Homo sapiens: one gene and its partner. The protein of the gene in region 2 purifies or fractionates together with the protein of the main gene of each other region. This does not show direct contact. Each region holds a gene or a part of one and is shown on either strand. Other genes may lie near its edges.

Evidence for each region. The genes of interacting proteins can lie anywhere in the genome.
Region 1: the proteins of RUBCNL (region 2) and GRK6 purify together in Homo sapiens (affinity purification with mass spectrometry; 2 studies listed by BioGRID and IntAct, with this or other methods). This does not show direct contact.

The regions. Positions count from the first base shown.
Region 1 is NC_000005.10:177,429,662-177,436,707, forward strand, and holds part of GRK6 (G protein-coupled receptor kinase 6), read left to right. Parts: intron 1-1,210; coding exon 1,211-1,306; intron 1,307-2,049; exon of another isoform or gene 2,050-2,275; coding exon of another isoform or gene 2,276-2,333; coding exon 2,334-2,446; intron 2,447-2,571; coding exon 2,572-2,649; intron 2,650-3,044; coding exon 3,045-3,145; intron 3,146-3,485; coding exon 3,486-3,578; intron 3,579-3,685; coding exon 3,686-3,749; intron 3,750-3,874; coding exon 3,875-4,015; intron 4,016-4,252; coding exon 4,253-4,443; intron 4,444-5,240; coding exon 5,241-5,278; intron 5,279-5,370; coding exon 5,371-5,460; intron 5,461-6,411; coding exon 6,412-6,620; intron 6,621-6,731; coding exon 6,732-6,869; intron 6,870-7,046.
Region 2 is NC_000013.11:46,335,220-46,342,265, forward strand, and holds part of RUBCNL (protein associated with UVRAG as autophagy enhancer), read right to left. Parts: 3' UTR 1-7,046. UniProt on the Homo sapiens protein: Regulator of autophagy that promotes autophagosome maturation by facilitating the biogenesis of phosphatidylinositol 3-phosphate (PtdIns(3)P) in late steps of autophagy.

The DNA.
Region 1 (7,046 bases), on a different chromosome or scaffold from region 2:
ACTTCTGCCCTTGTACCACCTGCCCTCACCCAGGCCAGATGGATACAGGACTAGAAAGCCAGAGGGGAAACTGAGGCCCAGCATGAGAAAGTGGTTGTCTAAGGTTGCCATGGCGTTGTTGGAGTTGGGGTTCACCTCTTGACTCAGCCCTACTTGATGTGGACAGTGTCTCCCATTCACTACGTAACACACATGGAGAAGCTGAGGTTCACAGATAGCGAGTGATGGGCCACAGTGTGAATCAGAGATTCAGACCCAGCTCTGGGAGGCTCAGGCCCCTTCCACCCTCCTCAACCTGGTGGCCCACAGGCCACACACATTTGGCTAGCTCCCTGACACATTTTATTTGGCTGCAGTGAGTTTTTTTTTTTTTTTAAACAAAATGGGGGCCAATATTTTATGTTAGAGTCTGCAATTCCGGCTGCTTTTGAAAAAATCAGAAGAGCTGGCCACATTGAGCCAGAAACCCTCCTAGCAGCAATCAAGCAATCAGCTGGCGTTCTCCTGCAGCTGGCCCTGTCAGAGAGGCCTTCGCTGTTCCTGGTCATCTCACATCTGGCCCACGTTTCCCACACCTGTTGGGCTCTGCAGGCAATCGAACTGCTGCTGTGACCTCAGCTGCTGCAGATGGGGTGTCTGCGAGGTCAAGCAAGACAGGCAGGGGACCGGGGAAGCCCCAGTGTGCAGGGGACGGGGAGTCCTGGGTGCCAGCCCCCTTGCCCCTGCCTCATTTGAGCGTCTGATATCTCTGATGTGGGGCCTGGTGATAGAGGCCTGGGAGCCTCCTTGTCCCCATGCTGCCCTGTGCGTCTCTCAGGCCTGCCCCACTGGCCTAGAATCTCTCCCTCCCGGGCCTTCTGCACTTCTCAGCACTGTGACGTCCTTCTCCCCTTTCTTCACCGGGGGAACTCCTACCTGGCGGGAAGCAACTGGGGCTGGACCCATTGTTGGAGCTACTTGGAACACTGTCCTCCCGCAGCGACCTCACTGCCTCTCTTGGCTCTCCCAGTGCAGGAGCCTGAAGCAGGAGAAGCACGTGTGTCCTGGAACGCAGCAAGGGCGTGCTGGAGCGTGCAGAGGGAAGGCCTGAGGTGCTGTTCTGCCTCAGCTCTGCCTTGGCTGGGCCCTAGAGGCCGTGGACCGCACTGAGGACCCAGAGGCAGTTCTGAGGCAGTGGGACTCGAGACCCAGTGTCCTATTGCTCCCACAGGTGGCGGTGGAAATCGCAAAGGCAAAAGCAAGAAATGGCGGCAGATGCTCCAGTTCCCTCACATCAGCCAGTGCGAAGAGCTGCGGCTCAGCCTCGGTGAGGCCTGGGCAGAGACTGGGGGTGCTGAGGCGAGGGGCCCTGCTGGGGCCGGGGGAGCCTCCCCTGAGACCTTGCCCCGGAGCAGAGGGGCAGACTTGGGGGCTCCAGTGAGCAGGAGGATGAGGACTGCACCATTCAGCCCAGTTTCAGTTCCTGGGCTTGGGACGGGTGGAGAGCAGACAGCAAACAGGGTCACACCGAGGGTGGTTGAAGCGGGTGTCGGGAATAGGGCAGGGGCAGATTGGGGCAGTTGATTCCACTTTGAAAAGGAGAGCCAGCTAGGGTGAGCAGGGCCCACAGGACAGAGGGAGCAGCAGCTGGGCCAGCCCACAGACTGACTGCCTTGGGACCCCCAGGCTGGGGCGTAGCCTCCCAGGCCCAGCCCTGAGGGGTGCCCAGCAAATCCTTGACCAGAAGCCCTCAGCCTGGGCAGTGTGACAGGGTTACTCCTGGGAGGGGACAGAAGGGCCCAGGACCCCAGTTCCTGCCAATCTTGGCCAAGGCCCCAGGTCTGAGCAGCACCCAAGGTTGCTGAGGCCCCCGGTGGCCTGCACGTGCGCAGAGCACACCCGGGCTGCTTCCACCTCCTGGGAAGGAGGCCCAGCTGAGAGCCTGCCGGAAGCCACAGCTTCCTCTCGCACTTTCGCCAGGCAGGCAGCAGGTGTGGGCCTGGCCCCGGCTGGGCTGGGCCGGAACCTCACGGACCGCACCCAACCCCAGTACCGTGACATACGCAAGTCGTGTAAATCAGGAGACAATGCAGGGAGGTGGATGGAGGCCTGGGCTCTGGAGCCAGACTCCCGGCTGTGTGACACTGAGCTAGTCAGTTAGCCTCTCTGGGCCTCACAGCCCCAAAACAGCTGTGCCCACCTGAGGGTTGTGGTGAGGGTTCTGAAGAAGATTGTGGCTACCACACTGCAGAGCTGGAAGCTGTTGTGGGGGCCCAGGGCCTGGTGGTGTGGGCACATGCCCCACCCATGTGCTCTCGGGCTGTGGACCCAGCAGCTTCCATCACTGCCAACAGAGCGTGACTATCACAGCCTGTGCGAGCGGCAGCCCATTGGGCGCCTGCTGTTCCGAGAGTTCTGTGCCACGAGGCCGGAGCTGAGCCGCTGCGTCGCCTTCCTGGATGGGGTGGTGAGTGCAGCCCAGCCCTGCCCAGCCCCGCGGGTGGCCGAGGTCCTGGCCCCATGTGCCCCTCCTCCCCACACCTGCTGCTTGCCCTGCCCAGACCTCCAGCTTCTTTGCTTTCCACCCTGCAGGCCGAGTATGAAGTGACCCCGGATGACAAGCGGAAGGCATGTGGGCGGCAGCTAACGCAGAATTTTCTGAGCCACACGGTGAGTGAGCAGCGATGGAGAGATGATGGGAGCCACCAGAGCCCCGTGTCAGGCACAGGAGTGACCACAGTGTCAGGCTTCTGAGGGTGGTCTCTTCATACAGACACATGTAACACACAGCCTGGACAGAGAGTGCCCTGGAGCTGCTCCAGGCAGCACGGCGGGCATGCAGCCCAGGGTATGGGCTGGGCTTGGGCCAGGCGGCCTCCCAGTGGCTCTGCTGCGCTCTGCCTCATGGGTGGGCAGCAGGAAGGACTTCAGCAACCAGGCTGGCTGGCACACCCTGGCCTGCAGCCTCTCATGGCACCAGCCCGAGTTGCCTGACCCCTCTCCCCTGGAAGTGGGCAGCCATCCAAGGGAGCCCCTGCACTGACCTGTCTGGGGCTTGTTCCCAGGGTCCTGACCTCATCCCTGAGGTCCCCCGGCAGCTGGTGACGAACTGCACCCAGCGGCTGGAGCAGGGTCCCTGCAAAGACCTTTTCCAGGAACTCACCCGGTAAGCCTGTCCCTGCCCACAAGCCTGGAATTATGCCCAGCGGAGGGGGCTTCTGGGGGCCAGGAAGACTGTGAACAGCTCGGTGGCTGGTGAGGGAGCTCAGCTGCCCAGCCCTGGCCTTGCCCCTGCTGTGTGACCTGAGCAGGCTGCCTCCCCTCTCAGTAGCACCCACAGCTTCAGCACAGGCTGTGTGTCTCCCCGCTCAGGGGTTAGCAGGAGGACTGGCCGACGACGATACCTGTGGGCTAAGCCTGTACAGAACGGGAGGCCTGGCCCAGCAAGCCAAGAGCCTGAGGTGTCAGGGGCTGGCGGGTGAGCTGGGCCTGCCTTTCCTCAACAGGCTGACCCACGAGTACCTGAGCGTGGCCCCTTTTGCCGACTACCTCGACAGCATCTACTTCAACCGTTTCCTGCAGTGGAAGTGGCTGGAAAGGTGAGCTCCCTGAAGGCTGGGCCGGGACAGGCCAGGTCGCCGGGGTTCTTCATAGGCCTTGGGCTCTCCTGCTCAGCCAGCGTTTGCTTCCCCACCCCTTGCCACAGGCAGCCAGTGACCAAAAACACCTTCAGGCAATACCGAGTCCTGGGCAAAGGTGGCTTTGGGGAGGTGAGTGGCCAGGCCAGAGCCCCTGGGAGAGTGAATAGGGTGGGTGTGTTGGGACCTGGACCACCCCCTGGATGCCCAGCAATGGCACAGCTGGCCCCCATTCGCCCCTGTCTGTCTGGCCACAGGTGTGCGCCTGCCAGGTGCGGGCCACAGGTAAGATGTATGCCTGCAAGAAGCTAGAGAAAAAGCGGATCAAGAAGCGGAAAGGGGAGGCCATGGCGCTGAACGAGAAGCAGATCCTGGAGAAAGTGAACAGTAGGTTTGTAGTAAGTACAGAAGGAGACTCTCCCTTCCCCTTGGCCACACTGGCGCACCGACCGTCCCCACCCCCCAGGCCCCACCCTCCCATGTGGGATGCCAGGAAGGGCGGGTTTGGGGTGTTGACACCAGGCTTGGGGAGCAGGCTGGGCCCAAGGAGTGGCACCGAGAAGGCTTTTTTGGGCAGCCCTGCCGCCAAGCGCCCCGCAGCTCCTGCCTGAGGGCTCGGGTCCCCTCGGCCACAGGTGAGCTTGGCCTACGCCTATGAGACCAAGGACGCGCTGTGCCTGGTGCTGACACTGATGAACGGGGGCGACCTCAAGTTCCACATCTACCACATGGGCCAGGCTGGCTTCCCCGAAGCGCGGGCCGTCTTCTACGCCGCCGAGATCTGCTGTGGCCTGGAGGACCTGCACCGGGAGCGCATCGTGTACAGGTGGGGAGGGCTCGGCCACCCCAGGGGCTTAGTCCTTCCCTGCCAGCGACTGCAGCTGGGCCTGGACGGGGGTGGCCAAGGCTGCCGATCAGGCCAGACTACAGAAGGACATTGGTTTGGGGGCTGTGGCACCGGCTTAACTCACACGCCAGGCCAACCTGAGTAGCCCAGACCTAGGCTTTGGGCTCTGCTGGACCCACGGGGTATCCTGACTTTGTCACCCCTCCACCCCCCACCGTGTGACCTTGGGCCAGGAGCTCCCTGCTCCCAACACTGCTTCCTTTTCTAGGAAGCAGAGACTATAATTCCTACTTCCCAGGTTGTTAGAAGTAGGCCCAACTTCCTACTGGAGGGGCCCAGTGAGCTAAGTACAGAGTGCCTGGCACATGGGGCTGGGTAAGAGAGAACCCTGGCTCTGATTGTTGCCGACTTCCTGTGAACCTCACAACAGCCTAGTCAGGGGACGGATGAGTAGTCCCATTTGATAGAGAGGAAAGGCAGAGTCAGTCACCAAGGGGTGGAGACTCCTTGGTCTCCACTGGGGAGGCCCCTCCGGGGTGGAGCTGTCTTCCACTCATCTAGAGAGTCCTGGGAGTCCTGGCTCTAGATCCTTCCTCTGCTCCCTTGAGTCCGGGCTGTTGCCAGGGAGAGCAGGGCTGTCTGTCGCCCTGGCAGCAAATGAGTCTCGCACCTTGCTCCACACCTGGCCCCCGGAGGCGAGTGAGCTGGGGGGGCTGGCCCCTTCTGACTCCCTGGCAAACTGAGCAGCATCTGACCCTGCTCTTCTCTCTGCACAGGGACCTGAAGCCCGAGAACATCTTGCTGGATGACCACGGTGTGTAAGGGTGCCTGGGGTGGGTCAGGGTGGGGTGAGATGCAGAGGCCTGGCCTGTTAACGGGTCCACCTGTTTCTCCACCCACACTCAGGCCACATCCGCATCTCTGACCTGGGACTAGCTGTGCATGTGCCCGAGGGCCAGACCATCAAAGGGCGTGTGGGCACCGTGGGTTACATGGGTGAGTCTTCTCTGCCCGGCCCACTAGCCTCCTGGGTTCCCTCACTATCCACCCACCCAGCCACACCCACTTCTGTCTGGGAGTCTTCTCTCAAAAGGGGCCTCAGTAGAAAGGGCCCATGCCGATGCTCCTCTTCTAGAGGTTAGGAGACCAAGACTCAGCCGGGGCCGCACACAGTTGTGAAGCCATGTCGTTCATTTGCTGAATACTTATTAAACCCTGCTATGGCTGAGCCTGCAGGTGGCTACCGGGGGATGGAGGAGAGAGACCCAAACCTGTTTCCGTGGCCCCAGTCCCTGCCCTCCCTGTGCCCATCTGTGAGGGAGGCCAGTGGAGGGGCCAACATGAGGCCCCACATTCCACCTGGAGACCGAGAGACGCAGGAGGCAGAGTCCTGGCTCTGCAGGCTCCGCCTCTTGCCGGTTGCGTGGCCTTGAACCAGACACTCCGCTGCTCCCGGCCTCACTCTGCTCCACTGGAAAACACTCATCATACCTGCCTCCCAGGGCTGCCTGGAAGATGAAAAGGGAGAGTTCAGGGAAAACTCCCCACAGGGCTGCCCTGGCAGGTAGGAGGTATTCAGAAAATAGGAGTTTCCTTCTTCTCGCTGATATTAAATCCAGAAGTTGCAAAATGGTAGCCACATGGGCCCAATTTGGCCTACATTTGTGTTTAAGTCAAACTGTTTTTAGTAAGCCAGATGGTTTCACATACAAAATACAGATTTCTGACTTCTTGTGTAAAATCTGAAGACCCGGGGACCCTGGGCGCGGCCTCCTGCAGGGCCGTATTCACCCCGCTTGATGGGGCCTGTGCTCTCCTACTGGCCAAGGTCCCCCCTGGCCAGCGGGTGTGAGTGTATCCCAGACCTAACGTGCACTGGCGTTCCTGGGGCCTGAGGGTCCACTGCCCGCCTCCTGCCCAGCCCTAACTCCCATGCCGCCCGCCCAGCTCCGGAGGTGGTGAAGAATGAACGGTACACGTTCAGCCCTGACTGGTGGGCGCTCGGCTGCCTCCTGTACGAGATGATCGCAGGCCAGTCGCCCTTCCAGCAGAGGAAGAAGAAGATCAAGCGGGAGGAGGTGGAGCGGCTGGTGAAGGAGGTCCCCGAGGAGTATTCCGAGCGCTTTTCCCCGCAGGCCCGCTCACTTTGCTCACAGGTACGGCAGCTCACAGAAGCCTGGCCAGCCAGGGCTGGGGTGGATGCACCTTTCCCTCCCTCCCACCCACTCACCTGCCTGGCCTGCCTGGCCGACTCACCCCTGCCACAGCTCCTCTGCAAGGACCCTGCCGAACGCCTGGGGTGTCGTGGGGGCAGTGCCCGCGAGGTGAAGGAGCACCCCCTCTTTAAGAAGCTGAACTTCAAGCGGCTGGGAGCTGGCATGCTGGAGCCGCCGTTCAAGCCTGACGTGAGTGCAGCCCACTCCTGCTGAGGGCGGGGCCCAGCCAGGGCTGGGGCTCAGGGGCTCTTGTAGTATCAGCCAGGATGCTTCCAGTGCAAGTGGCAGAAAAAACAATCTAGTGGCTTAGCCACAGAAATAAAGATAATTCACAAAAAGGAAAAGCCCCAGGATGGGTCTGGCTTG
Region 2 (7,046 bases):
GTGCCCAGCTAATTTGTGTCTTTTTGTTGTTGTTGTTGTTGTTTTTTTTTTTTTTTTTTTTTTTTTAAGAGACAGGGTCTCGCTATGTTGCACAGGCTGGTCACAAACTCCTGGGCTCAAGTCATCCTCCTGCATTGGCCTCCCAAAGTGCTGGGATTACAGACACGAGCCAGCACCCACCCAACTTAATTTTAAATTAAGTCTTCAGAGGGTTTAATCCACGGAGATAGACGATCTGATTTATGCTTTATAAACATTCTGGTGTTGTGTGGAGAATGGACTATAGAGGGGCAAGTGTGGAAAGAGGAGATAGGAGGTTTTTAATTAGGTTGAACCACACATGAAATTGCCACTTGGTAGCTCAACAATTATAAAATAGCAGCAATGCTACGTAGTTCAATCTAATAGAAGTTCAGGAGAGAGATGGTGGCTTGTACTGTAATAATGTCAGTGGCTGTGGTGAGCCATCAACTAAGATATATTTTGTAGGTAGAGCTGACAGAAGTTACTGATGGACTGGATCTGGGGAGTGAGGGAAAGGGAAAGGATGACTCCTAGGTGTTTGGCTTAAGCGACTGGGTCTATGGTGGTGCCATTTTCTGAGATGGAAAAGCCTGTAAAGAAATACTAATACAAGCACAGCTATCAGTGGGCTGCTGAGTACCAGCCTCTGGGCTGAAGCTACAAATTTAGAGTCATTCAAAGCTATTTCACTGGATAAGACCATCCCAAGAGAAGAAAAGAGATGGCAAAACTGAGCCCTGGAATCTCTGTCTTTATTTAGAGATGGACAGAGAAAGAAGAGGAAAACCTACAAAGGAGACCAAGAAAAGAGACCACTGTCTACAGAGGAAGGGGAGAAATCACAAATGTCATGATGTTTCCGGGTTCCAAAGCTTCCAGGAGGAAGGTGAATGGTTGCATCCATCCATCTGGTCTATCTGACAGCCGGCCCTGTTCTTTTTGGTTCACGTGGTCTTTAGTAATTTACTAAATAACCAAGAAAACCAGGAGCTTTGGGTACCAGGCAGCACCTCCATCATCAGACTCTACGAAGATGGAGTTTCAGGTGGTCCCCAACAGCTAATCTGATTTCTCCACTGTGGGCATGGACAGTAGAAATGCAACCATTACTCTTAAAAGTTGTATAGTACTGATCTCATTTATCATCTGTAATTTGTCATTAGTTTAAATGATCTATCATTTATTTAAAATGATATCTAGTCTATATGGTAAAATTTACAAAGAAAATTTTTGAAAATTATTCTAATCCCACTATACAGAGATAATCACCACCACAATATGATGAAATTCATTATAGTCTAGCTTTTCTTAGCTAGACTTTTTTATTTTATTATATTTTATTATAAAACAGTATTCTCTTTTGTTAAGAAGAATGCAAGCAACTGTGGTAGAGAGGTAGGTGAAGACAATACAGTGACTACTGAATTTAGATATTGCTAGTGACCTTGACGGTTTGGGTAGAATGGTTGAGATGGAAATGCTATTGTTGTAGGTAAAGGAAGAAAGAGGTGTGGAAGCGATGGCAAACATTAAAAACTGTTCTTTCAAAAATGTTGCTGTGAAGAAGATCATAGAGGTAGAACTGGAAAGGAATGTGAGGTTAAAGAATTTTTTTCTCTCTGCATATTCCTTTATTTTTTAATGTAAGGAATACTAGATAATATGGATAACTCAGAGGAGTAGAATAGTTTTTGATGTCTGCATGACTGTTATGGACTGAATATTTATATCTCCTCAAAAGTCATGTGTTGAAGACCTAACCCCCAATTGTGACAGTATTAGGAGGTGGAGCCTTTAGGTGGTGATTAGGTCATGAGGGTGAGGCCCTCACAAAGGGAATTAGTGCCCTTGTAAAACAGACCCCAGGGGGTTCTCTCTCTCTCTCTTTTCCTTTTTCTTTTTTTGGGGGCAGGGAGGGGGGACCAAGTCTCACTCTGTTGTCAGGCTGGAGTACAGTGGCGTGATCTCAGCTCACCGCAACCTTCAACTCCCTGGTTCAAGCGATTCTTCTGCCTCAGCCTCCCGAGTAGCTGGGATTACAGGCACTTGCGACCACACCTAATTTTTGTATTTTTAGTAAAGACTGGGTTTCACCATGTTGGCCAGGATGGTCTCAATCTCCTGACCTCGTGATATGCCTGTCTCAGCCTGAGGCATATATCTCAACTTTGGGAGTGCTGGGATTACAAGTGTGAGCCACCGTGCCTGGTCCGCTCTCTCTCCTTTCTACCATGTAAGGATACAGTGAGATAGTGCCATCTATGAACCAGGAAGTGGTCCCTCAATAGACATCAAATCTGCTGTTGTCTTGATCTTGGACTTCCTAGCCTCCAGAACTGTTAGCAGTAAGTTTCTGTTGTTTATTATCCACCTAGCGTAAGGTATTTTATTATAGCAGCCTAAACAGACTACGACAGTGACAAACCTGTTCCCTCAGTACTCATCCCCTGGACAACAGGTATCAGGACATCTTATGTTAGTCAGAGTAGGGTGGGTTACACTGTAGGAACCAGCCCCACAAAAATCTCAGGAACTGAACAAAATAAAGGTTTATTCTTGCTTGTAAAAAGTCCAATGCAGGCACCGCACTCCTGAGTAGTTCTATTTCAAACAATCACTCAGGGAGCTGGGTAGGGCCCTCAGGAATGTGGACCTTCAGGGGCTGCAGGAGCAAAGGGAGAATAAAGTCTCTCTCATAGCTTCCAAGAGACTTTCAAGGGCAGATAGAAAGGATCAAAGGCTGCCAAAAGTTCAGAGAGCTGTCCCCAGTAGAATAATGAGGTAAATGCAGATATCAGAGTGTAAGGAGAAGGGAGCATGTGTGTGCACGTGCAGTACGCTGAAGAATGGGCAAGATCGGGAGGGAGATGAAAAGGGGAAGCGCCCACCACTCCCATCTGCAGAGCCCATGCAAGAGTACAAATACAGGTCCACATGCCATATATCCAAGTATTTAAAATTTGAAATATGTTTTATCTTCCTACCATGGTGAATATCCCTTCATCAGGACCCGAGAAAGCAGGTTTGAATTTTGAAATCTTTGACTCCTCACTGCTCTGCTCTGGAGCATGGTGGCTCAGGTATAGCTAGCATTGGGCCAACCCCTGCCCCTCTCTCTTCCCACTTTGGCTCCATCCTACAAGCAGCTGCCCCTTGGCTGCCTCTTGGTCTTAGCAGCGCAGTTCACTTTCAGGAGGCTGGACCAGGGGAAAGACCTGAGCAGCCCTAAAAGTGGGGTTGAGACCACAGGGCAGGGGATTCTGTCTGGGGCTCCATTTGATCTAACAGGAGGGGTGGGGGCTTTGGGTGCGCTTGCCCTTTGTCTCCTCACCAATGGGGATGTACGTAGCCCGAGGAAGGCCAGAGCAGGGCCTCTTTCCAGGATGAAAGGGCAGTCCTGATCCCAGGCAAGGGATGCAAGAAGAACAAGACCATGGAGGCAGGAACACGGCAGGACTAGAAAAGAGGGGGCAGCCCTGGGGAGAAAGAAGCCTGGAAGCACAAGCAGAGGCCAGAAAATGTTCAAGGAAGGGCTGGGCGCGGTGGCTCACACCTGTAATCCAAGCACTTTGGGAGGCCGAGGCGGGTAGATCACTTCTGAGACCAGCCTGGCCAACATGGCGAAACCCCGTCTCTACCAAAAACAGAAAAAAATTAGCTGGGCATGGTGGCACATGCCTGTGGTCCCAGCTACTAGGGAAGCTGAGGCAGGAAAATCGCTTGAACCGGGAAGCAGAGGCTGCAGTGAACTGAGATCACGCCAACTGCACTCCAGCCTGGGCGACAGAGCGAGACCCTGTCTCAAAAAAAAAAAAAAAAGTGCAAGGAAAAATACACAATTTGCTTAACCTATGTGGTTAAGCTCTTCAATCCTCAGTCCCCTTGGCTTGGAGAGCTGCCCAGATATGCGAGGATGCAAAGGTTCTCGATTTCTCATGTTTGTGCTGAAGCTTCCCAATTGTGTCTGCAGCCTGCTACCTCAGCATTACTCATAAAAGTATTGTTTTAGTTTCTAGTGAAGTGAAAAAGGGGAACTACGGTTTTCCTTCCCATACCAGTTGAGAAATTATTTAAAGACAGAGATCCTTAAATGCTTGTTTTAAGGAAGCACGCTTCTAAAAATGACACACTTCACCCTCCTTTGGCGATGAGTTCAGGAAGGCTTCCTGCAGGTAGCATCTGACGGTGGCTAAGCCAGCCATGCAGGCTCAGACCTGGGGGCAGAAACTGAATGTCAAACCCCTTCCTGACATGTCTACCACGTTCCTTCCAGCAGGTTTGAATTCCGAAGTCTCAGACAAATGACCACACTCTGGGTGGTTTAAAACAACAGGGTCAGGCGCAGTGGCTCAGGCCTGTAATCCCAGCACTTTTGGAAGCCGAAGCAGGCAGATCACCTGAGGTCAGGGGTTAGAGACCAGCCTTGCCAACATGGTGAAAACCCGTCTCTACTAAAAATACAAAAATTATCCAGGCCTGGTGGCGTGCGCCTGCAATCCCAGCTACTCGGGAGGGTGAGACAGGAAAATCACTTGAACCCAGGTGGCGGAGGTTGAAGTGAGCTGAGATCGCACCACTGCACTATAGCCTGGGTGACAGAGCAAGACTCCATTTCAAAAAAACAAAAACAAAAACAAAACAAAACAAAAAAACCCCAGGAATTTATTCTCTCATAATTCTCAATGTCAGAAGTTTGAAATCAAGGGGTCAGCCATGTTGGGTTTTTTTTTTAAGGCTCTGAGGAAGAATCTGCCCCCTGCCTCTCTCCGGCTTCTGGGGGCTGCCAGCAATTCTTGGTGCTCCTTGGCTTGTAGATGCATCACCCCAACCTCTGCTTTTTTTCTTCCCTGCATCTTCTCTCTTCTCTCAATTTCCCTTTTCTTATAAGGACACCAGTCACTAGATCAAAACTCATCCTAATGCACTATGTCCTCATCCTAACTTAACCACCTCTGCAAAGACCCTACTTCCCAAAAGGCCACAGCACAGACACCAGCATAGACCTTTAACATATTCTTTCATGGGACACAATTCAACCCACAACAGTAGCTATTGTTCTAATCCTTGTATTACAGATTATAAACTGAGACCCAGGGAGTAACTTACCCAGAGATACAGAAAATAAGGGGTATGACTCAGTTTGTAATCTGTCTAGACCTCATTATTACCATTTGCCCTTGCTTGTACCAGGCCTTTTAGTGGGTGCTTCATTTTCATTTCTAATCCTTATCTCAACTGCAGAGAGTCATATCCCTCATTTTACAAACAGAGGCTTAGATAATTTAAATGGCTTCCCCAGTGTCTGAGTCTATTTGTGTTGCTATAAAGGAATACCTGAGGCTGGGTGATTTATAAAGAAAAGAGGTTAATTTGGCTTATGGTTCTGCGGGCTGTACAAGCATCGCACCAATATCTGCTTCTGGTTAGGACTTGTGGCTGCTTCCACTCATGGTGGAGGGGAAGGGGAGCCTGCGTGTGCAGACTCCCCTTGTATGGAAACAGAGGAGGCAAAGAGAGGGCAGGGAGGTGCCAGGCTTCATAACAACCAGCTCTCATGGGAACTAAGAGTGAGAACTCACTCATCACCACAAAGGTGCCACCAAGCTATTCTTGAGGGATCCACCCGCATGACCCAAACACCTCTTATTAGGCCTACCTTCAACACTGGGGATCAAATTTCACCATGAGGTTTGCAGGAGTCAAACAAGCCAAACTAGAGCACCAAGTCACCATGGGTAGGTAGAAAGTGGCATATTTGGGATCTAATCTGAAGTTGTGGCCAATAATTCTCACCCAGGTCAACACACCAGACATCTTTGGGATGGCTTGCTCCTCCTCATCCTATAGCCTCTGCCTTGAGATGGTGTAACTTCCTCCCTGCAGTTGAGAATCATGACTGTAAATGACACACTACTGGAATTGCCCATGTGAAGAGTGCAGAGGCAGAAAATGAATCACTGACCTTTACAGCACTGCAACTGATGCCTCACAGTGGGTAATGGTCTGACCAAGCATTCATCTTCTTTCCGGCAGCCAAGGAAGAGTTGAACAGAAAACCCACACAATCAGGAAGACCCATTAAACAGCTATATATGCCACAACTAATTACTTCCTTATGGGGTGCTCCATGTGGGCTGAAGATCACTTCCCTAACAGGTGCCTTCCTGGGAAGAAGCCTCTATTATCACATTGGAGAGGAACAAAGTCTCAGACAAATCCCATACTGCAGTTATTTAAATGACCTCATTCTTCCTCAAAATAGAAAATCAAAAGCATCACTTCCTGGCAACTGCTGTGCACTCTTCCTTAATATCAAAGATATGTAACACACACAGGCTCATCAGTGCCTTACAAACATACAAACCCTGAGCACAGAGCCCTTCAAGCAATGCTTGAGCCATAGCAGCTGCCTTAAATCAACACTGATGTGAGAAAACACTCTGCCCAATGCCACTTCTGCAAGTTGGAGCAACACTTACCAGTTAAGGTTGTTTTTACTCCTTTGTCTTGAAAAGACACCACAAAAGAAGCAGGGCCTAAGCATGGGCTTTGGAGGCAGGTGGACTTGAATGTCAACCCCAGCTCCATCATGCACTTCCTGTGGGAACCTAGGAAAGTTATTTCTCTTCTCTAGGCCTCAGTTTCCTTGCCTGTAAATGGAGATATAGACATCTGCCTCAGAAAGGAATGTGAACATACCACTCTTACCCTTGATTCTTAACAGGGAATAGGAGCAATGGGCAAGAATGAAACATTGTTTGAAGTCTGGTTTTATTTATTCTATGTGCCTCTACACTTCTATAATACTTAGAAAAGATCTGGCTTAAATAATGGATGTGAGCACAGTTCTGGCAGAGGCACTGCGGATGAGAAAACAATTGACAGAATGAGAAGACTGAATGAAAAGAGATTGACAGAAGTCATTCATTTCTTTCATGTGCTCAGTACTATCCCATTGAATAAAACACACTCATACACATGGCTGGATGGGGTTAGGGGACAATCTGTGACGCTTTATTGCC